Regions from separate parts of the Homo sapiens genome. Here all the other regions are linked to region 2. Evidence: fine-mapped expression QTL. A gene starts in region 2. Each other region holds a variant in brackets. All regions are shown on one strand. Distances are between the middles of the regions.

Region 1 (5,152 bases), 48 kb after region 2:
GAAGGGCTTTCCCACCACCTCCTATCCCAAGCTCCCGCCGAGGAGCCCCTTCCCTGGCCGGGCTCGGGCAGCTGTTCCGGAGCCTTGTGGTGGGGCGTGGGGCCCTCATCACTCTCCTCACAAGCGTACTTGTCCCTTCCCCTGCAGAACGTGCGCATCGACCCCAGTAGCCTGTCCTTCAACATGTGGAAGGAGATCCCTATCCCCTTCTATCTCTCCGTCTACTTCTTTGACGTCATGAACCCCAGCGAGATCCTGAAGGGCGAGAAGCCGCAGGTGCGGGAGCGCGGGCCCTACGTGTACAGGTGAGGCTGTGTCCAGGTGAGGGTGGAGGGGCCGGCTGAGGCTGGGCAGGGGAGGGGTCTCAGAGTGGACGGGATGGGGAGGCTGCTGACTGAGCCCCAGAGATTGTTCCGGAAGCAGGCAAGTCATAGTCGGGGTAAGTGCTAGTCCCAGAGAAGTTTTTGTTTTAGGGTTTTTTTTTTTTTTTTTTTTTTTTTTAGAGATGGGATCTTGCTATGTTGCCCAGGCTGGTTTTGAAGTCCTGGGCTCAAGCGATCCTCCGCCTCAGCCTCTCAAAGTGCTGGGATTACAGGTGCGAATCACCAGACGTTGCCTAGAGAGGTTCTTTATGGAGCAGGGAGGGACCAATGGTGTGCGTCTGGGTGGAGGGTGCATGTGTGAGTTACACACATACATACACACACATACACATACACATACACACATACATACATACACACGTACATACACATACACACACACATACATACACACACATGTACCTACACATGCATACACACATACACACACACACACACACACACACACACATGCATGACCAGGAGCAGGGACCGACCCCCCAGACCCTATCTGGGCCAGAGGACCGGGTGGGTCAGCACGGGAAGGGGTCAGCTGTTTGTGGAACATGCTGGCCCAAGGACCACAGAGTTGTGCCTTTGCTTTCTGCTTGTCCTGTACCTGGCTGTGGCCTAGGGGAAGTGACTTCATTCCTCTGAGCCTCAGTTTGCCCGTCTGCAGACTGGAGAGACACAAGAGCCCCTTCATGGGGTCACCGGGACACTCAGGATGCACTCGGAGCTCTGAGACGGCTGGCGGATGTGCCTGTTACAACTCCCTTACCTCCTGGCGTTTTCACAGCACCTCCCCTCCTCCACACCCCCACTTCCCAGTTCACAGACAGGGGAGCTGACTTGCCCCCGGCACACGGTGTTCCAGGGATGGGGCGGGCAGAGGGTGTTCCCGCTGTTGGAGACCCACAGTCTGGTTCTGGGAAAGCCAAGATGAAAACCCAGCAAATGTGCCTGAGGTTTGGGAATGGGAAACATGAATCAGCTGCTGCATTCCGTTCACTCATTCACTCATTCGCTCGTTCATTTAACAAATGTTTACTGAGCACCTGCTAGGTGTTGGCTGCCGTTCTAAGTACAGGGGACCCAGCAGTGGACAGAATGGGCAAAAATGCCAAAGCTCTCTATACTCCTTCATTCTGTGAGCACTGACTGAGCACCTCCTGTGTGCTGGGGGCGCAGGCAGACCAAGGCCCTGCCTCACCAAGCTGATGTTCTGATGGGGAGAGAGTAAAGAAGTGGACAAATAAGGGGAAATCAGGCAGCCATCAGTATTGTGCAGACAAAACAGTGTGAAGCCGGAGTGCAGGAGGGAGGGTGGCCTTGGGGCTCGGTCTGACTGGAGGGTCGGGAGCACATCTGCAAAGGGACACTCACTGGACCCGCATGGTGGGAAGAGGCCCTGGGGAGACAGAGTCCCGGGCAGAGCATGTGCAAAGGTCTGAAGGCTGGGACAGAGGCCTGTGCGGCTGGGGTTACGAGGGAGGGAGACAGTGGAGAGACGAGGCCTGAGCCTTGCTGAGGGCCTCAGAGGTCACGTTAGGAGCCTGATTTTAACCTGCATGCAAAGTGGGGTTGTGGTCCAGAGCATGGCACGATCTGATTTCTACTTTTTTTTTTGAGACGGAGTCTCTCTTTCACCCAGGTTGGAGTGCGGTGGCGCGATCTCGGCTCACTGCAACGTCCGCCCCCCAGGTTCAAGCGATTCTCCTGCCTCAGCCTCCCGAGTAGCTGGGATTACAGGCATCTGCCACCATGCCCAGCTAATTTTTGTATTTTTAGTAGAGACGTGGTTTCGCCATGTTGGGCAGGATGGTCTTGAACTCCTGACATCAGGTGATCTGCCCACCTCAGCCTCCCAAAGTGCTGGGTTTACAGGCATGAGCCACTGCTCCCGACCTGATTTCCACTTTTCAAAGATTCTTCTGGATGGTGGAGAGTGGCTTGGAGAGATGAGAGATCATAAGGACAGCAGCAGCAACAGTCACAGCAGCTGATGTTTACCTCGTGCTTTCTCTGCACCCGGCGGCTGTGTTGATTGCTTTC[T/C]GGGTATCTGATTGCTTAATCCCCACAGCTGCCCTGTGAAGTAGGGCTTGTGATTACTTCCTTTTGTAGATGGAGAGACGATGGCCGTGTTGGGTGGGGGAGAGCAGAACGAGGCCGGGTGGGCGGCGACACCATGTCCTGCAGTGGGCAGGCGGCGGGAGGGACAGACTTGGCGAAGGGGCCGAGCTCAGCTTTGGCTGTGGGGCCGGAGGTGTGCACAGACGTCCAGGGCCCCTGGTTCCCAGGCAGGCATTGCAGGCGAGTAGAAGGGAAACGTCCCATGCAGCGGGGCGGGGCGTCTGACCCACTGGCTTCCCCCACAGGGAGTTCAGGCACAAAAGCAACATCACCTTCAACAACAACGACACCGTGTCCTTCCTCGAGTACCGCACCTTCCAGTTCCAGCCCTCCAAGTCCCACGGCTCGGAGAGCGACTACATCGTCATGCCCAACATCCTGGTCTTGGTGAGGCTGCCCTGTGGCCCACGCCGCCTCGCACCCTGACCTCGTCCCCTGTCTCTCCTCCCGCCTGCCCCTTGTGCAGAGAGCAGTCCCTGAGGTGGTCGGAGCGTGGGGACTCACGCCTGGTGGGTGGCTTTCGGCCCTGTGCTGTCTCCACCACCCCCAGTGGGTTCTGAGTTTCCCAGGTGGGTCCACCTGTCTTGGTTTGGAAGTCCTGGCCAAAGTACTTTTTTTTCCCTTTTCAATTTACATTTCTGAGATCTCCAAAAGGGGCTGTCTTGTTGAGGGCTGAGCCACAGGCCCGCCTCTGGGACTGGGGCTGGAGTTCACTTAGCCTGAGTCCAGTGGGGTGCAAGGGGGAGAAGGGGTTCTCGGGAGCACATGTGGCCTTGGCACTGGAGGAGCAGAGGGTGGTTCTGGTGTCCCAGATGCCCCACGTGGCCACTCCAGGGGCCTCCTGCACCCCAGCATTTCCCTTCATGGGCTCTTTGCTGTGAGGCCCAGCTGGGGCCAAGGGAGGATGGGCCAGCCACGTCCAGCCTCTGACACTAGTGTCCCTTCGCCTTGCAGGGTGCGGCGGTGATGATGGAGAATAAGCCCATGACCCTGAAGCTCATCATGACCTTGGCATTCACCACCCTCGGCGAACGTGCCTTCATGAACCGCACTGTGGGTGAGATCATGTGGGGCTACAAGGACCCCCTTGTGAATCTCATCAACAAGTACTTTCCAGGCATGTTCCCCTTCAAGGACAAGTTCGGATTATTTGCTGAGGTACGTGTGGCCTGGTGAGAAGCCAAAGATTCAGGCCTGTGTCCTGTCTTCCCCTCACACAGCCTGGACACTGGTCACCAGCTTGCTTTGTAGCTGGCTGGGGATCTAGTGGCTGTGGGTTGTAAGTGACTGAGAACCTGACTCAAACCGGCTTGAGTGAAATGGGGAATGTTGGGGCTCATAGAACTGAAAATGCTAGGGTTGGATTCAGGTACAGCTTGATCCAGGCTCAAATGATGTGACTGGGCCTTAGCTTAGCAAATTGGAGGCTTTGCTGGAGGAAGGGGGCATGGCTGCTGGGGAGTAATATCACAAGCTGACTCTTAATCTTGACTCTTGGCAACCTGGTAGGGTCACTGACTGGGCTTCGGAGCCAACATCTCGTCCATGGAGGGTCTGACCCTGACCTTGGCTCCCTCACCGCAGGTTTCACTGAGTCCTTGGGACTGCTCCAGCCTCAGCCATCTCTTTGGTCTCTGCTGATCAGGGTAGAGTGCTGGGGGGGATATCGTGGTGCTGCGTGTGATAGATACTCAGTACGTTTTTGTCAAGGGTGACGGGCTCCTGTCGTGTGGGTAAATGAGCAAGTTTGGGCTAAGTGGCATGATGCTGTAAAGGCATCTTGTAAATCCTGAAGTGCTTTGCAAATGAAAGTTATTACAAAGTCCCTAGTTTAGTATAATCTACGTTTGACTGCATATAATGAAAACCTCACAAGAAAAGTCTAGCGGTAGGCTGTTCAGTGTTGGTGTGGTGGCTTCATGGTCTTAAGTGATCTGGAAGCCTTCTACTACTGTGCTCTGCCATCCTTGGCATGTGGTTTTCATCCTCAAGATAACCTCATTGTCCAAGTTGGCTGCTAGAGTGTCAGCAATCACATCACATTCCAGGCAGCACAGCAAGAAGGAAAAAATGGTGGGGCTTTGGGGAGCAGATGGAGGAACTGGGGGTAAAACAGCGTGTTCCAGTTTCCTCCCTCTTAGGGAGGAAGAAAACCAATGTCCACTTCCTTTCTATTGGCCAGAACTGAGTCACATGGCCACACCTAGCTCCAGGGGAAGCTGGAAAGGTAGCCTTTTAGCTGGGTGTGCTGATGCTCTGAGTATGGTTTGGGTTTTGTATGAAAGAGTAAGGAGAGATTGGGCTTTGGGTAGTAACTGGCAGTTTCTGATGCTCTCCGTCCATTATAATGATCATTTAAGTATCCTATTGGGTGAGCATTTATTAATAATAACAATAATAATGAAAATAAAGACTATCATTTTGAGCTCTTACTGTGTCCGGTGCACTGTACCTGGCCGTTTTTGCACATGAGTCCCTTTAATGCTCCCCTTTGTAGTGGCTCTGGTTATTCTTGGCTCCACATGGGCACGTGACAGACACACCCGGGATGCTGGGCTGGGGCCTTGTGCTGGGTCCTGCTCTGGAGGTCTGTGATGGGTGCAGTCACTCAGCCGGGCAACCTTGGAGCTCCTCAGTGTGCTCCACCCTGCAAAGCA
Region 2 (5,152 bases):
CCTGGATTTCTCTGAACCTGTCCCCCGGGGCTACCACAGTCTCACCTCAGCCACTCTGACCTCCCTCAGGAGTTGGGCCCTGCCCCTTGGGGCACTGGACCATATTCGGCCTCCTTAGAGGAAGGCAGTGCCAGGCAAAGCTGTCTAACGAGAACATAGCAGGTGCTCTGTAAATATTGGTTCAGGCGAAGACATGTTGCTTAAGGATGGCCCTGCGAGAAGGCTGCTTTCTTCTGGAGTTAAATAAGAGGTTTAGAAAGCCTCCCTCGGAGCACTCAAGGACTGAGCCTGCCTTACCCACGTGCTGGGGACACCACCCTCCTGTCCCTGTGTAACCCAGGAGTCTCTTCTCAGTAACTTCATTCAGAAAATGAGGGGACTGGCCAGCACTTCAGGGACCAGAAGGCAGGCCAGGTGGGGTGTGGTGGAGGACTTCAGGGGGGCGTGGAGGGCTTCAGGGATACACTCACCCATCTAAGGGCAACTGCCACTTAGTGCCAGCCCACTTCTCTCCCTTTTTTCTTTTTTCTTTTTCCCCCAGGGTCTTGCTGTCACCCAGGCTGGAGTGCGGTGGTAAGATCAGGGCTCACTGCAGCCTTGAACTCTGGGACTCAAGGGATCCTTCTGCCTCAGCCTCCTGAGTAGCTGGGGCGACAAGCGCATGCCACTGTGGCTGGTTAATCTTTTCATTTTCTGTAGAGACTGGTCTCACTATGTTGCCCAGGCTGGTCTCCAACTAGTGGCCTCAAGTGATCCCTCACCTGGACCTTCCAAAGTGCTGGGATTACAGTTGTGGGCCACCATGCACCGGGCCTGTTCTGTTTTCTTGGAGCACTTGCCTGCAATTATCCTTCATTCATTTGCTCACGTGCTCATCATTGGTTTCCCTCTTCATTAGAAAGTGGGGACTTGGTTTGGGTTAACTAAGCTTCCCTGTGCATCAGTTTTCATTTCTTTCTTTCTTTTTCTTTTTCTTTTCTTTTTTTTTTTTTTTGAGATGGAGTTTCGCTCTTGTTGCCCAGGCTGGAGTGCAATGGCGCTATCTCGGCTCGCCACAACCTCCGCCTCCCGGGTTCAAGCGATTCTCCTGCCTCAGCCTCCCGAGTAGCTGAGATTACAGGCATGCGCCACTACGCCTGGCTAATTTTGTATTGTTAGTAGAGACGGGGTTTCGCCATGTTGGTCAGGCTGGTCTCCAACTCCCGACCTCAGGTGATCCATGAAGTCCACCCGCCTCGGCCTCCCAAAGTGCTGGGATTACAGGCGTGAGCCACCTCCCAGTTTTCTTATTGTAAAATGGAGCCATTGTGTGCAAAGCACTCAGGACAGGGGCCAGCACCTAGAAGGCTCCTCAGTCATTCATTCTAGAATATTTACTGTGAGCAGGCATTCCCTGCCAGGCCACGTTCTAGAGCTCAGGACGCGTGGGGGGGGGGGCCCGCCTCACGGGTTGGCATCCCAGTTGGAGCACATGGTCAGAATGCAAGGACGCAAATGAACGTGAACCTGCCAGGGGGTGCTCAGTCATAGGGTGATGGTGGCACCAGCGTTACGAAGGATAGGGCCAGGCGGATACCTGGGAGAACAGAATTGCCTGTGCAGGGTGTATGGAGGCCCTGGGGCTGGAGCCTGCGGGGCTTCTTCCAGGGACAGTGAGGCTGGAGATGGACTGCGGAGATGAGGGTCTAGAAGGTGGTGGCGGGGCATGTGGACCGTTGTAAGGGCTCTGGGGTTCCTGGGTGGGCTGGCGAAGTCCTACTCACAGTGACCAACCATGATGATGGTCCCGATAGAGGAGGAGAGGGAGGAGGAGGGAAAAGGAAGGGTGAGGGGCTCAGAGGGGAGAGCTGGGAGGAGGGGAGACATAGGTGGGGGAAGGGGTAGGAGAAAGGGGAAGGGAGCAAGAGGGTGAGGGGCACCAGGCCCCATAGACGTTTTGGCTCAGCGGCCACGAGGCCTCCTCAGCTCCCGCCCCAAAACGGAAGCGAGGCCGTGGGGGCAGCGGCAGCATGGCGGGGCTTGTCTTGGCGGCCATGGCCCCGCCCCCTGCCCGTCCGATCAGCGCCCCGCCCCGTCCCCGCCCCGACCCCGCCCCGGGCCCGCTCAGGCCCCGCCCCTGCCGCCGGAATCCTGAAGCCCAAGGCTGCCCGGGGGCGGTCCGGCGGCGCCGGCGATGGGGCATAAAACCACTGGCCACCTGCCGGGCTGCTCCTGCGTGCGCTGCCGTCCCGGATCCACCGTGCCTCTGCGGCCTGCGTGCCCGGAGTCCCCGCCTGTGTCGTCTCTGTCGCCGTCCCCGTCTCCTGCCAGGCGCGGAGCCCTGCGAGCCGCGGGTGGGCCCCAGGCGCGCAGACATGGGCTGCTCCGCCAAAGCGCGCTGGGCTGCCGGGGCGCTGGGCGTCGCGGGGCTACTGTGCGCTGTGCTGGGCGCTGTCATGATCGTGATGGTGCCGTCGCTCATCAAGCAGCAGGTCCTTAAGGTGGGTGAGGGAGACCCCAGGGGGTCCGCGCACGGACCCGGGCTGTTGGGCGCTGGGCGCCGGGAGGACCCGCGCGTTGCGGTGGGTGGGCGACCGCAGCGGAATCGGCGCCCGGGCCTGGCGCCGCAGAGCACGAGGGAGGCCAGGCGCTTCGGGAGGGGCTGCTGCCCGCCTCCCCACCACCCTCACCGCCCCAGACTGAGGCTAGGGGGGAACCCAGGGGCTTTGCTGGAGGCGCAGGCCAGGGTTGGGGAGGCCTGGACGGGAGACCACCCGGGCGCCTGACCCGCCCTAAAGGGTCTGGGCGCCCACGACGGATCAGGAGTGTGGACAGGTTGCTTCCGTGGTGCCGCCCGAAGGAGCCCAAGAGTGTGTGAACGTCTGCTTTCACAGCAGCCGGTAGCAGGGTCCGGTAAAATTAGAGCTGCACTTTGCTTGTATCCTGTGAGCCCAGGAGGACAGGAACCTTCTGTGAGACCCACGTGGGTGCCCAGCTCACATGGTAGGTGCTCAGCTGAGCATCCTCCACTGCCCAGAATCTCCCCATAGGAACCCTCTCCCAGAGGCAGAATGCGCGACTCTGTTCTCCCTGCTCACTGCCTCCATGATTCAGTCTGGAAACTATAAGCCGCTTTTCTCCCCAGATTCATGCAGAGGCAGGCAGCAGCCCAAGGTCCTCTGAGTGCACGCAGCCTTAGGTCTTTCCTCTGATCCTAACTTTGCATACCATTGCCCTTTCAACCAGGGAGACAGATTAGGCGGTCAGCTGGTCTGCAGACGGACAGACTCTGCCCTGGGTGCCTGGGTGGCCTGTTTGAATGAGCCTGGAGTTAGGGAAGGGCTGGGAGATTGCAGAGTATCACATTTGAACTAAAAGCCATTTAGAGTTTTGAAGCCCTGGGAACCCACACATGCAGTGGCGGGGAGGGGAAACTGGGGCTCACTCTTATCAAAGTTCTAGCCAGATGCAGAGCTGGGGTGAAGATGTGGACATTGTCACTCTAATGGACGTCTTTTCCCCTTGGCCTGCCTCTTTGGACTGGGTTTCTTAAGAATGGTTCCTTGTCCACATTTCATGTCTGTTCCCTCATTCACAGAGCGAATGAATGAGTGAATGAATGAAGGATCTGCTTAGATCTGGCTGCCACACTTCTTGGGACCCAGCTAGCTGGCCTTAAAGATGGAGCAACATATGGTCTCTCTCAAGGTCTCTGGGTGAGCAGTTGTCTAGGGCATCTTAGCCACGTTGTGTCTATTTTTGATTTTTCAAATCTTGTCCCGCCAAAGCCTGTAATCTGACTGCAAAGAGGTCCCGGTGGATGGTGACACTGTCTCTGGGGATGGCAGGAAAATCAGCAGAATGGCCTCTTCTCCCCCATGACAGCTCAGAGGCTTTCTCTGTTACACTGAGGGAGCTTTATTTTTCTGTGGCCTACTCATACTGAAACGTGTGTGTCAGTGACAGCCTTGTGGCTGCTGCAGTGCCAGGACCCCACTGTGTGTATGCAGGGTCCCTAGAGGGGCTATCACTCAGGCAGTTCAAGCATGTGACCCTGTGCTGTGAGTGAGCACCTGGTCTCTTGCTATGGGAGTGTGGGGACTTATGCCAGGTAAAGAGTCTTGCCAACTCAGTTATTCGGGGGCTTATTTCAAGGTGTTTTCTTTCTCAGGATGTCATCAGGTTAAGTATGTCAGTAGGATGTGTGTGTGTGTGTGTGCACCACACATGCATGCACCACCAAATTTCCCCACTCCTCTCCTGGGCTTCTAAAGAGGAAAACCACATTGTCCTCAATTGTCCTGGAGCTAGGAGCATCTGGCTTAAAGTTGAACAGGAGCCTCCCAGCATCCTTCTGTGGATATCCCAAAGGCGATTGGTTTGGGGCCGAGTGGTGTGAAGGCAGGAAGACACGCCCAGCCCAAGACGGCCACTTCTGGAACCGCCCAGGCTGGAGCAGCGGCCAAGTGCCTTAGCATGGAAGAAGAGAGCCTGTGTTCAGGGGACCAGGCGGGTGAGACACACGCATAAGCAGGGACTGCCCGCTGGTGTTTTCTTTGGCTACATGAGTCTGTGTGCAACTTGAATGGGAGGCCTTGTGCTTTTATTTTTTTTTTTTAATGTGCTTTTTGGTTAACAACAGAAGTCCCTACAGTTGGCCCTCTGTGTCTGCAGGTTCTGCATCCGTGGATTCAATCAACTGCAGATGAAAAGTTTTCAGAAAAAATCCCCCCAAAATAACAATACAACTAAAAAAAGACATAAAAACAATACTGTATAACAACTATTGACATAGCATTTACATCGTATTAGGTATTATAAGTAACCTAGAGATGATTTAAAGAATACGGGAGGATGCGCATAGGTGATATGCAAATACCACAGCATTTTATGTCGGGGACTTGAGCATCTGCAGATCTTGGTATCTATGGGGGTCCTGAAACCAATTCCCCTCTGACATTGAGGGACGACTTTATATAAAATATATGAATACTTGCTCGTAAAAAAAAGTTCAAATGGAGGAAAAGAGAGAAAGTTTCCCCCATTTTATTCCCCTCCTGAGCTATTATCACCATCATTGATGTGGATCTTTCTAGACCCTTTTCTGTGTACCAGGAGCCTGTATGTATACATATTAATATATATTTTACATAACTTGAACTAAGTGTAGGTG
Region 3 (5,110 bases), 86 kb after region 2:
ACAGCCTAGGGGTGGTTTCCCCTTTCTACTTCTGAGTGAGACCTTCTCAAGTCACGGCTCTTTGGGCCCACATGGCTAAGGTCTAGCCACCTGTGGGTGTCCTGTGCTGCCTCAGTGGGTGGTGTGGGGGCGGGGCTGACCTCCCCCGCGCCTGGCTCAGTGCAGCAGACCCTGGCCCCTGTGCCCGCTCTCTGCCCTGAGCAGGAGTTTGATTTTCCTACCCCGTGGTGAAGCAAGCACAGGTGGGCGGAGGTGGGCAGCGGTTTCCAGCCCCAGCCACCGGGGCAGGGAGGCCTCTGTTGCTCAGGGCAAGGGAGGCAGGGGGCTTAGTGGGACGAAGGCTCACCCCACACTCTTATCATTAGCATTATCTGTATTTTTAATTTTTAAGTTGAGAAATTTTCTACAACTGTCAAACTAGACAAATGACAGTATCCAGTTCCCCTCACCCAGACGCAGCCATTGCTGACAGCTGTCAGTGTTGAAGATGGCCAGCATCTCATGCCCTTGGTTTCACTCGTTCCCTGGGTGGCCCTCGTCCCCCTCCCCACGTCCTGCGCCCCGCATACCCTGAGCAGCCATGGCCAGGAACTTGGCACGTGGGTTTGTTTTTTCTGAATCTGCATGTGCGCAGCCATGAGCATGAGGTCACTTTTTGAATGTGACCGAAGCTGCATCCTGCTGCGTGTATTGCTGTGTGGCTGGCTTTCCTCCCTGTCTTCTGTTCAGGAATACTGTTCAGGCTGAATACCGTCCTGTGACATGGGTTTAAAAACACAGGCCAGGCATGGTGTCTCACGCCTGGAATCCCAGCGCTTTGGGAGGCTGAGGTGAGAGGATCGCCTGAGCCCAGGAGTTCGAGACCAGCCTGGGCAACATAGACCTGATCTCTACAAAAAATTAAAAAATGAGCCGGGCGTGGTGGTGGCACGTGTCATTGTCCCGGCCACTTGGGAGGCCGAGGTGGGAGGATCACTTGAGCCCAGGAGTTCAAGGCCGTGGTGAGCCATGATGGCACCACCGTACTCCAGCCTGGGCGACAGAGAGAGACCGTCTCTAAAAAATAAAAAATAAATCAACACATAAACATACGTTCTCCTCCTGAGGGACAGAGCTTGCCCCGGTTGTTCCATGTTGACTGTGCTGCACACAGGCCGCCCCCCTTGCTCTGCCCCTCACTGTATTAAGTCTCTTTGGGCCTCAGTTTCTCCATCTCTAAAGGAGGTCGGGGAGGCCAGGCGGGTGTTGAGTGAGATGAAGAGGCCCTTGGAGTCATTCCAGGAGTCTATAGGTGACTCCAGTCTCTTCTCACTTCTGACAGCCTGGTGGCGGGGGTGGAGTCTCTGCTGGGGATGTGGGTACAGGGCTGTGGTGGGCGGGGATGAGGGTGGGGTTTGGTGACAGGGCGTGGGTGGTCACCCAGCTTTGCCTTTCTCCACAGGGTCCTGAGGACACCGTGAGCCAGCCAGGCCTGGCCGCTGGGCCTGACCGGCCCCCCAGCCCCTACACCCCGCTTCTCCCGGACTCTCCCAGCGGACAGCCCCCCAGCCCCACAGCCTGAGCCTCCCAGCTGCCATGTGCCTGTTGCACACCTGCACACACGCCCTGGCACACATACACACATGCGTGCAGGCTTGTGCAGACACTCAGGGATGGAGCTGCTGCTGAAGGGACTTGTAGGGAGAGGCTCGTCAACAAGCACTGTTCTGGAACCTTCTCTCCACGTGGCCCACAGGCCTGACCACAGGGGCTGTGGGTCCTGCGTCCCCTTCCTCGGGTGAGCCTGGCCTGTCCCGTTCAGCCGTTGGGCCCAGGCTTCCTCCCCTCCAAGGTGAAACACTGCAGTCCCGGTGTGGTGGCTCCCCATGCAGGACGGGCCAGGCTGGGAGTGCCGCCTTCCTGTGCCAAATTCAGTGGGGACTCAGTGCCCAGGCCCTGGCCACGAGCTTTGGCCTTGGTCTACCTGCCAGGCCAGGCAAAGCGCCTTTACACAGGCCTCGGAAAACAATGGAGTGAGCACAAGATGCCCTGTGCAGCTGCCCGAGGGTCTCCGCCCACCCCGGCCGGACTTTGATCCCCCCGAAGTCTTCACAGGCACTGCATCGGGTTGTCTGGCGCCCTTTTCCTCCAGCCTAAACTGACATCATCCTATGGACTGAGCCGGCCACTCTCTGGCCGAAGTGGCCGCAGGCTGTGCCCCCGAGCTGCCCCCACCCCCTCACAGGGTCCCTCAGATTATAGGTGCCCAGGCTGAGGTGAAGAGGCCTGGGGGCCCTGCCTTCCGGGCGCTCCTGGACCCTGGGGCAAACCTGTGACCCTTTTCTACTGGAATAGAAATGAGTTTTATCATCTTTGAAAAATAATTCACTCTTGAAGTAATAAACGTTTAAAAAAATGGGATGCCTGCCTCTGTGACAGCCTTGTTTGCTGAGGTCGTGGGGGTGGGGGCCTCTGGGAAGTTCCGGGCTCCTCTTCTCTTGGTCAATAGCTCCTTTCTGGTGGCTGCCAAGAGCGTCTCTCCCAGGGCCGGGCTGCTGGCTTACCTTCCTGTTGTTTTCAAATTTCAACCTTGTGCAATGTTGAGTTTCATAGAAATACTGCATGAGTACGCCCTTGTTTAGAAGCAGCAGGGTCTGAGTCCCATCCCACAGCCCCCAGTGCAGACGCTTTTGCCACTTTTGCATGGGGCCCCCTGGATGTGTTTCTGTGCATTTATCTACAAATCCTGGTGCCCATAGGACATGCCCCGTGTTGTTCTAGGCCTTTGCTTTCTGCTCGTTACATAAATGGTGAAGAAGAGAAGCGGGTAAGAGAACAGATTGGAGCCATCTAAAAGTTCTCATCTTAAGTGTAGATCATTGCAAAGGATGGAATTTTCTCCGATTGTCATCATCGTTGATGTTTGAATATGAGACCATTTCATCAGTATTTAAGTGTGCCCGCTGGGATCTAACTAGGAGAGGAGAGGGTATTCACTGCC[G/A]AACATTTCAAAGAATATACGAACAAGCTCTTTTATGGTCAGAAATGTTAGCCCTTTTCCCCTTAAACTTGTATTTCCTTTCTTCTTCCCTCCTAAAATTTTATCTAAATGATATTTATATTTGATGCTTTTAAGCCTTTTATTAATCACTCCTATACTTGCCTGCAACATAAATATATAAGTTGAAGCAAACTTTTTTTTTTTATTTCTTGTGACCATCAAGGGTAAATTTTTTTAGGTCTGGGGCTGCCATAACAAAATACCATCAAGGCCGGGCGTGGTGGCACACGCCTGTAATCCCAGCCCTGTGGGAGGCCAAGACCGGAGGATTGCTTGATGCCAGGAGTTCAAGACTAGTCTGGGTAATATGGTGAGACCCTCATCAATACAAAAAAAATACAAAAATTAGCCAGGCGTGGTGGTGGGCGCCTGTGGTCCCAACTACTCAGGAGGCTGAGGTAGGATTGCTGGAAGCCAAGAGGTTGAGGCTGCAGTGAGCTGTGATCATGCCACTGCACTCCAGCCTGCGAGACAGAGTGAGACACTGTCTCAAAAAGAAAAAATACCATCAATAGGTGGCTTAAACCATTTATTTCTCACAGCTCTGGAGGCTGGAAGTCTGAGACCAGGGTTCCAGCAGGGTTGGGTTCTGGTGAGGCGTCTCTTCCTGGCTTCAGACGGCCGCCTTCTCTGTGTCCTCACATGGCCTTTCCTCGGTGTGAAAGGGGGAAGAGAGAGGGAGAGCGAGAGCTCTGTGGTGTCTCTTATAAGGACACTGATGCTATCAGATCAGGGCCTCATTTAATTATTTTCTTAGAGGCCCCATCTCCAGACACAGCCACACTGGAGGTTAGGGCTTCAACAGGAATTTTGGGTCAACACAAACATTTAGCCTATACCATCTGGATTGCCTTTCAAGTCTCAGGACACAATTGGTCAAAACTATATTACTATGTTTTATGTGACATATCAAAGTAGCAAAATTTTATTGGAATGCATGTCCTTTTGGTATGCATTTTATATATCTTTTTCATTTACAGATTAGAGTTGTGTGTGAGTGTGTGTACAATTCCATGAATTTTGACATGTTTATAGAGTTGAGTCATTACCCCTACAATCAAGACAAAACAATTTCATCATCCCCCAAGATTTCCTCATGTCTTCCCTTTGTTTTTGTTTGTTTTACAGTGGGCTCCCATAATTTTTTTTTTTTTTTTTTTGAGACAGAGTCTCGCTCTGTTGCCCAGGCTAGAGTGCAGTGGTTCAATCTTGACTCACTGCAGCCTTCACCTCCCAGGCTCAGGAGAGCCTCCTGACTTAGCCTTCCGAGTAGCTGGGACCACAGATGTGTGCCACCACACCTGGCTAATTTTTTTTTTGTAGAGATGGGGGTCTGGCTCTGTTGCCCAGGCTGGTCTCAAACTTTTGGCTTCAAGCATTAGTCCCACCTCAACCTACCAAAGTGCTGGGATTAGAGGCGTGAGCCACTGCACCCAGCCTGCGACCTGTGCTGCCTTCCTCCCACTTTGTAGGGAAGTCCCTCATCCCCATGCTTAGCCCTTGGCCACTAGCTATTTTTACCTTTTCCAGAATGTTCTAAATGGGATCTACAGCCTGTAACCCTCTGAGCCTGGCTTCCTTCACTCAGCACTGTCTCTAGATGCATGCCTGTTGTTGTGTGTAGCAATAGTTCCTTTCTTTTCACTGCTGAGCAGAACTCCATGGGGTGCACACACCAGTGCTTTTCAGCCGTTCACTTATTGAGGGACACGTAGAGTGGTTGCAGCCTTTGGCAATTGCATTAGTTGGTTTTCACGCCACTGATAAAGACATACCCAAGACTGGGTAACTTTTAAAGAAAAAAGGTTTCATGAACTCACAGTTCATATGGCTGGGGAGGCCTCACAATCATGGTGGAAGGCAAAGGAGAAGCAAAGTCATGTCTTACATGGGACCAGAGAAGAGAGAATGAGAGCCAAGTGAAAGGGGAAACCCCCGATCAAACCATCAGATCTTGTGAGACTTACTCACCACCAGGAGAACAGTATGGGGTTAACCGCCCGTATGATTCAATGATCTCCCACTGGCTCCCTCCCACAACATGGGAATTATGGGAACTACAATTCGAGA
Region 4 (5,152 bases), 20 kb after region 2:
CCGGCTAATTTTTTTTTTTTGTATTTTTAGTAGAGACGGGTTTCACCATGTTGGCCAGGCTAGTCTCAAACTCCTGACCTCAGGTCATCCACCTGCCTTGGTCCCAAAGTGTTGGGATTACAGGCCTGAGCCACCGTGCCCGGCCCTGGACATTTCTTTTTTTTTTGAGGCAGAGTCTTGCTGTGTCACCCAGGCTGGAATGCAGTGGCGTGATCTCGGCTCACTGCAACCTCCGCCTCCTGGGTTCAAGCGATTCTCCTGCCTCAGCCTCCCCAGTAGCTGGGACTACAGGCGCCCGCCACCACGCCCGGCTAATTTTTTTTTTTTTTTTTTGTATTTTTAATATAGACGGGGTTTCACATGTTGGCCAGGCTGGTCTCAAACTCCTGACCTCAGGTCAAACACCTGCCTCGGTCCCAAAGTGTTGGGATTACAGGCCTGAGCCACCGTGCCCGGCCCTGCACATTTCTTATAAATGAAATCATGCAATGTGTGGCCTTAAGTGCCTGGCTGCTTCCGCTTAGCGTCATGTTTTGGGGTTCATCCGTGGTGTGGCATGTGGAGTGCTGCTTTCCTTTTTGTAGCTGAGCAGGCCTCCACGGTGCGGGTGCACTGCATGCTGTTTTTCCGCGCCTCTGTGGATGGGCGTCTGGGCTGGTGGCTGCCGGGAGCGGTGCTGCTGGGAGCGCGCATGTTCGGGAACTCGCTTGGCTTCTGCTTTCAGTGGTCTCCTTTTATGCCCTCCTTCCCCTCACCCCTCTCGCTCTTCAGCCCGCCCTGCCCCTGCGCCCATCCTCTGTGTGGCTGCGTCTGTAAACCTGAGTGTGTCCTTGGACCTTGTGCAGTCCTAGATTCCGGAGCCTGCAGGTGTGGGTCCAGATCCCGGCCCTGCCTCCTGCTGCTGTGTGACCATGGACAGGCTCTTCGAGTCTCTGGTCTCTGGTGGGTGTCTGAGTCTGCATGGGAGGCAGAGGTTGCAGTGAGCCGAGATCGTGCCACTGCACTCCAGTCTGGGCAACAGAGCAGGACTCTGTCTCAAAAAAAAAAAAAAAAGAAAGAAAGAAAGAAAAAAATGTCCATAACAGGTGCATGGGCCAAAGACCATGTATTCCCGTACAGTTCTGGAGGCCGGAAGTCTGAGATCAGGATGTTGGCAGGGCTGGCTTCTCCGGAGACCCCTCTCCCGGCCTCATAGACGCCACCTTCTCCCTGTGTGCGCACATCCCCGGTGACTCTCTGCGGGTCCTAATCTCCTCTTTTAAGGGCGTCAGTCAGATTGGATTAGGGCTCACCCCACTGACCTCATTTAAACGTAATCACCGATTTAAAGGCCCTGCCCCCCGCGCCAATACAGTCACATTCTGATGCACCGAGGGTTAGGGCTGCAACATGGGAATTTTGGGGGGACACTGTTCAGCTCATAATAGTAGGGTGCCTATAAAATGGGCTAAAACCATGCCTTCCTATAGGATTCAGTGAGGACCGAGGGAGCTAGAGGTGGAAGTGCTTTGAGCTGGGGGTGGCACAGGGAGGCCCCCTTCATGTGGCCTGTCACGTCTGAGGAGAGGGCGGCTTTTCCATGCCATGCACGGTAACTCGTGTCAACATTCCTCGTGCTGCCCTGTTTAAAATCTATCCGTGTTCCTATGTGTGTATCAGGCTTATTGCTTCCTTCTGCTGCCTGGACCCCCTAATTCATGTTCATCCTGTTGTATTTATTCCCTTAGCGACGGGGGTACCTTGGTTATGTCTGACTCCTGCCTCCACAAACAGCAAATATGCTGGACCCTGCTGCCTTGTACTTCTCCACAATTTCCTGGGGATGCGCAGGAGTGGAATTGCTGTAGGGCAGAGGGGGAGCCATTTTCACCCAACATGCCTTCCAGAAGGGCCACTGCTGTTCACCCTCCCAGCTCTCACATCCTCTCCAGCACCTGAGACGATTTAGTCTTCGAGAATGTCTGGGGTCTCAGTGAGGGTACGTGGTGCAGCATTGTTCTCATGTGCTTTTCTGAGGTGTGAATTTGAGTCTTCTTCCTTTCATAAGTCCTCAGGTGGGGGTCTGAGGCTCAGAGATTTTGAGGGCCATGTTGGAGGGTCACAGAGCAAACTGGGGCTAGACCCCACCAGCTTGGGCTTGGAGGGCCTCCAGCTTGGATGTAGGGCCCTTCATAAATCCAGGATGATCTCATCTTGGGATCCTTAACTTGGTAACATCTGTAGAGACCCTATTTTTAAATAAGGCCACATTCTGAGGTTCTAGGTGGGCATGAATTTGGCAGGGGACATGCTTCAGACCAGCACTATGTGTGCAGGTGCCCAATCCTCAGATCTGCAGAGCTCTGGGTTCAAATCCAGGTCCCATTACTTGGGTCCTGTGGAAACTCACTTTTTTCCTAAAAGCCGATTTCCACCTCTGCACATGGGGCCAATGTTCTTCCATCTCACAAACCAGAAGTCAAGGCCAGGCGCAGTGGCTCATGCCTGTAATCCCAGCACTTAGCGAGGCAGAGGTGGGAGGATCGCCTGAGGCCAGGAGTTCAAGACCAGCCTGGGTAACATAGTAAGACC[C/GC]CCCCCCCCATCTCCACAGAAAGTAAGAAACAAAAACAAAACAAACTGGAGGCCAAGGAGAGCAGCTGCGGATGGTCACGTGCCTCTCCCTGGGTGTGCCCAGCTCTTACCCAGAAAGCCCTGGCTGGCATTAAAAATAAGGAAGGTAAAATAGGGATATGATCAAACAAATTAAAAGTGTACGGAAAAAGAGTCAGCCTTCTGGAAAGATCACAGCACGACACTGCTCCCCTGGCCCCAGCTGGTCTTTGCTCCAGAGGTGACTTGGGTTAATAGTTCCTTGTTTTTCCTTCCTGCAATAAACATGTTTGCGTCCACAGAGGGGGACCCACACCCGTATCCTTCCCGTCCGTGGCACACGTCCCACAAGGGCACACGGTTCCCATGCTTTTCTGCCTCTTGGCTGGGGCACCTAGGTGGATCTTGGCATCTCTTGTTCCCGCACAGAACCCATCCTCATCCGAGCCCTGGGCCTCTGTCTCCCAGCAGGCTTTGCAAATAGGACCTTGTAAAGGACAGGGCTGTGTTTCCCAAAGGCCAGAGCAGTGAAGAGGGGCATGTGGGGTCGTGGGGCACACCTCTAGGACATTGGGGTCCAGGGGTCCTTTCCAGTAAGACCTTGCTGTGCTGGAAACACCCCTGTGTCTTTCAGGGCTGTTTTCAGAGTCAGGGTTGATGTGACCGCCACGTTTCCTCTGGGCCTGACAGCTGTAATCTGTGGCTTGGGAGTGCAGATAAGTGTGATGAAGCTGCCAGCAGGCCTGGGCATCTGTGTCCTTGGTGGGGGCAGGGAGAAGAGACAGGGACTGGGATGCTGGGGCCAGGGCCAGAGCCCCGCTGAGATATGAGGTCCCCTTCCACCCTGGGAGGTGTGTGGGGAGGAGCTTCCTCGAACCCCTTTAGCTGGGACGGATGGAAGAATGAGCAGCTTTGCATTTCCGGCAGCGTCTCCAGCTTTCCTGGGGCTTTCTCGGCTTGTGTTATTGATGAACTCCAGTGCGTGAGGCCATTGGAGCCTTAGAGGCCTGTTTCCCCTGGACAGGTGACTGCCTGGGCCAGAGGCAGCACTGGCATGGTGCCCTCTTGCTCCTGGCTGGGAGTGACACGGGGCGTGGGGCGCTTTGCATTCATCCCCAGCTGTTTGGGCACATTTACAACCCTCATTTTACAGATGGGACAAACCCCAGTGGAGAATCTGCTCCGGGCAGCTGTTTATGAACCACCTGAATGGGGCACACAGGACTGTGGGAGGAGGAGGAGGGACCCCCAGGGCTGAAGTGGCAGGGAAAGCTACTCATCCTTTCGGCCCATGTTTACTGCTCACAAATTGTGGGCCAGGTCTCGTGCCAAGTGTTGGAGCTACAGCCGTGGACAAAAGAGACCTGGTCCTGCTCACGGCAGCTACGCTTTAGCAGGAGGGATGGGCCATGGAGAAGCACATGGAAGAGGTGGGGTGGCGAGAAGAGCTAGGAAGGGGACGAGGCAGGTGAGCTGACATGGAGCCACTGCTGGGAAGGGGACTCCTTCTGATGTGGGAGTCAGGAGGGCCTCTCAGAGGAGGGGCTCTATGAGCTGGGGAGCAGCTGGCAAAGAGCACAGCAGGTTCAAAGGCCGGAGGTGCGAAGGAGCCTGCTGTGTTGGAGGAAGAGGGAGCAGGCCAGTGGGGTTGGGAGAAGTGACTGGAGGGGGTGAAAGGGGACAGGCATGTGGGGGCCTTGCAGGACACCTGGAGGAGTTCAGATTTGGTTTTCAATTCCATGGAGGGTTCTGAGCAGGGAAGAGCCATGATCTGACTCAGTATTTTTTTTTTTTTTTTTTGAGACAGAGTCTTTCTCTGTCGCCCAGGCTGGAGTGCAGTGGCATGGTATCAGCTCACTGCAACCTCCGCCTCCCGAGTTCAAGCAATTCTCTTTTTTTTTTTTTTTTGAGACGGAGTCTTGCTCTGTTGCCCAGGCGGGGGAGTGCAGTGGCGCAATCTCCGCTCACTGCAAGCTCCGCCTCCCTGGTTCATGCCATTCTCCTGCCTCAGCCTCCCGCGTAGCTGGGACTACAGGCGCCCGCCACCACGCCCGGCTAATTTTTTTGTATTTTTAGTAGATACGGGGTTTCACCGTGTTAGCCAGCATGGTCTCAATCTCCTGACCTCGTGATCCGCCCACCTCGGCCTCCCAAAGTGCTGGGATTACAGGCGTGAGCCACCGCGCCCAGCCTCAAGCAATTTTCTTGCCTCAGCCTTCTGAGTAGCTGGGATTACACGTGCGTGCCACTACACTCGGCTAATTTTTGTATTTTTCGTAAAGATGGTGTTTCACCATGTTGGGCAGGCTGGTCTTGAACCCCTGACCTCAGGTGATCCACCTGCCTTGGCCTCCCAAAGGGCTGGGATTACAGGTGTGAGCCACCACGCCCAGCCTGACTCAGTCTTGAAGAGCTCTCTGGCTGCTGTCTGGAGAAGGGAGTGTCGGGGGCCAGGCTGGAAGCGGGGAGGCAGAGAAGATGGTGATTTGAGCCAGGTGGGGGTAGTTTTCTAAATGGAAAGAAGGGAACATATTCGAGTTTTTTTTCAGGGAGAGTCAACAAG

Which allele goes with the higher level. Positions count from the first base shown, and alleles are read on the strand shown. Sizes are in standard deviations (SD) of each study's normalised expression. Not every link is listed here.
As copies of C replace GC in region 4, the expression in monocytes after interferon gamma of the gene that starts at base 2,211 in region 2 goes down (moderate effect, 0.51 SD a copy in Fairfax 2014).

The links. PIP is the estimated chance that this variant, and not a neighbour inherited with it, causes the effect.
Region 1: its variant is the best candidate, but not a certain one, in a credible set for the expression of SCARB1 in whole blood (TOPMed, PIP 0.89).
Region 3: its variant is the best candidate, but not a certain one, in a credible set for the expression of SCARB1 in monocytes (Quach 2016, PIP 0.78).
Region 4: its variant is the best candidate, but not a certain one, in a credible set for the expression of SCARB1 in monocytes after interferon gamma (Fairfax 2014, PIP 0.65).

What each region holds. Positions count from the first base shown.
Region 1 is chr12:124,812,703-124,817,854 of GRCh38, reverse strand. It overlaps SCARB1 (scavenger receptor class B member 1), which reads left to right. Exons shown (of 13, transcript NM_005505.5): 2 at 148-305; 3 at 2,741-2,882; 4 at 3,450-3,653. Among named protein-coding and RNA genes, the nearest start is that of SCARB1, 49 kb to the left of the region's middle. RefSeq lists enhancers at 627-1,126, 4,023-4,192. The variant T/C (reference allele first, on the strand shown) is at 2,418.
Region 2 is chr12:124,860,923-124,866,074 of GRCh38, reverse strand. SCARB1 (scavenger receptor class B member 1) reads left to right here and starts at 2,211. Exons shown (of 13, transcript NM_005505.5): 1 at 2,211-2,480. The coding sequence starts at 2,355. LOC105370050 (a long non-coding RNA gene) reads right to left here and starts at 2,013. Exons shown (of 3, transcript XR_945488.3): 1 at 471-2,013. RefSeq lists enhancers at 7-176, 1,564-1,763, 3,857-4,383 and silencers at 1,994-2,673, 3,904-4,033.
Region 3 is chr12:124,774,918-124,780,027 of GRCh38, reverse strand. SCARB1 (scavenger receptor class B member 1) reads left to right here. Exons shown (of 13, transcript NM_005505.5): 13 at 1,442-3,172. Among named protein-coding and RNA genes, the nearest start is that of SCARB1, 86 kb to the left of the region's middle. The variant G/A (reference allele first, on the strand shown) is at 2,981.
Region 4 is chr12:124,840,719-124,845,870 of GRCh38, reverse strand. All of the region lies in intron 1 of SCARB1 (scavenger receptor class B member 1), which reads left to right. Among named protein-coding and RNA genes, the nearest start is that of SCARB1, 21 kb to the left of the region's middle. The variant C/GC (reference allele first, on the strand shown) is at 2,572.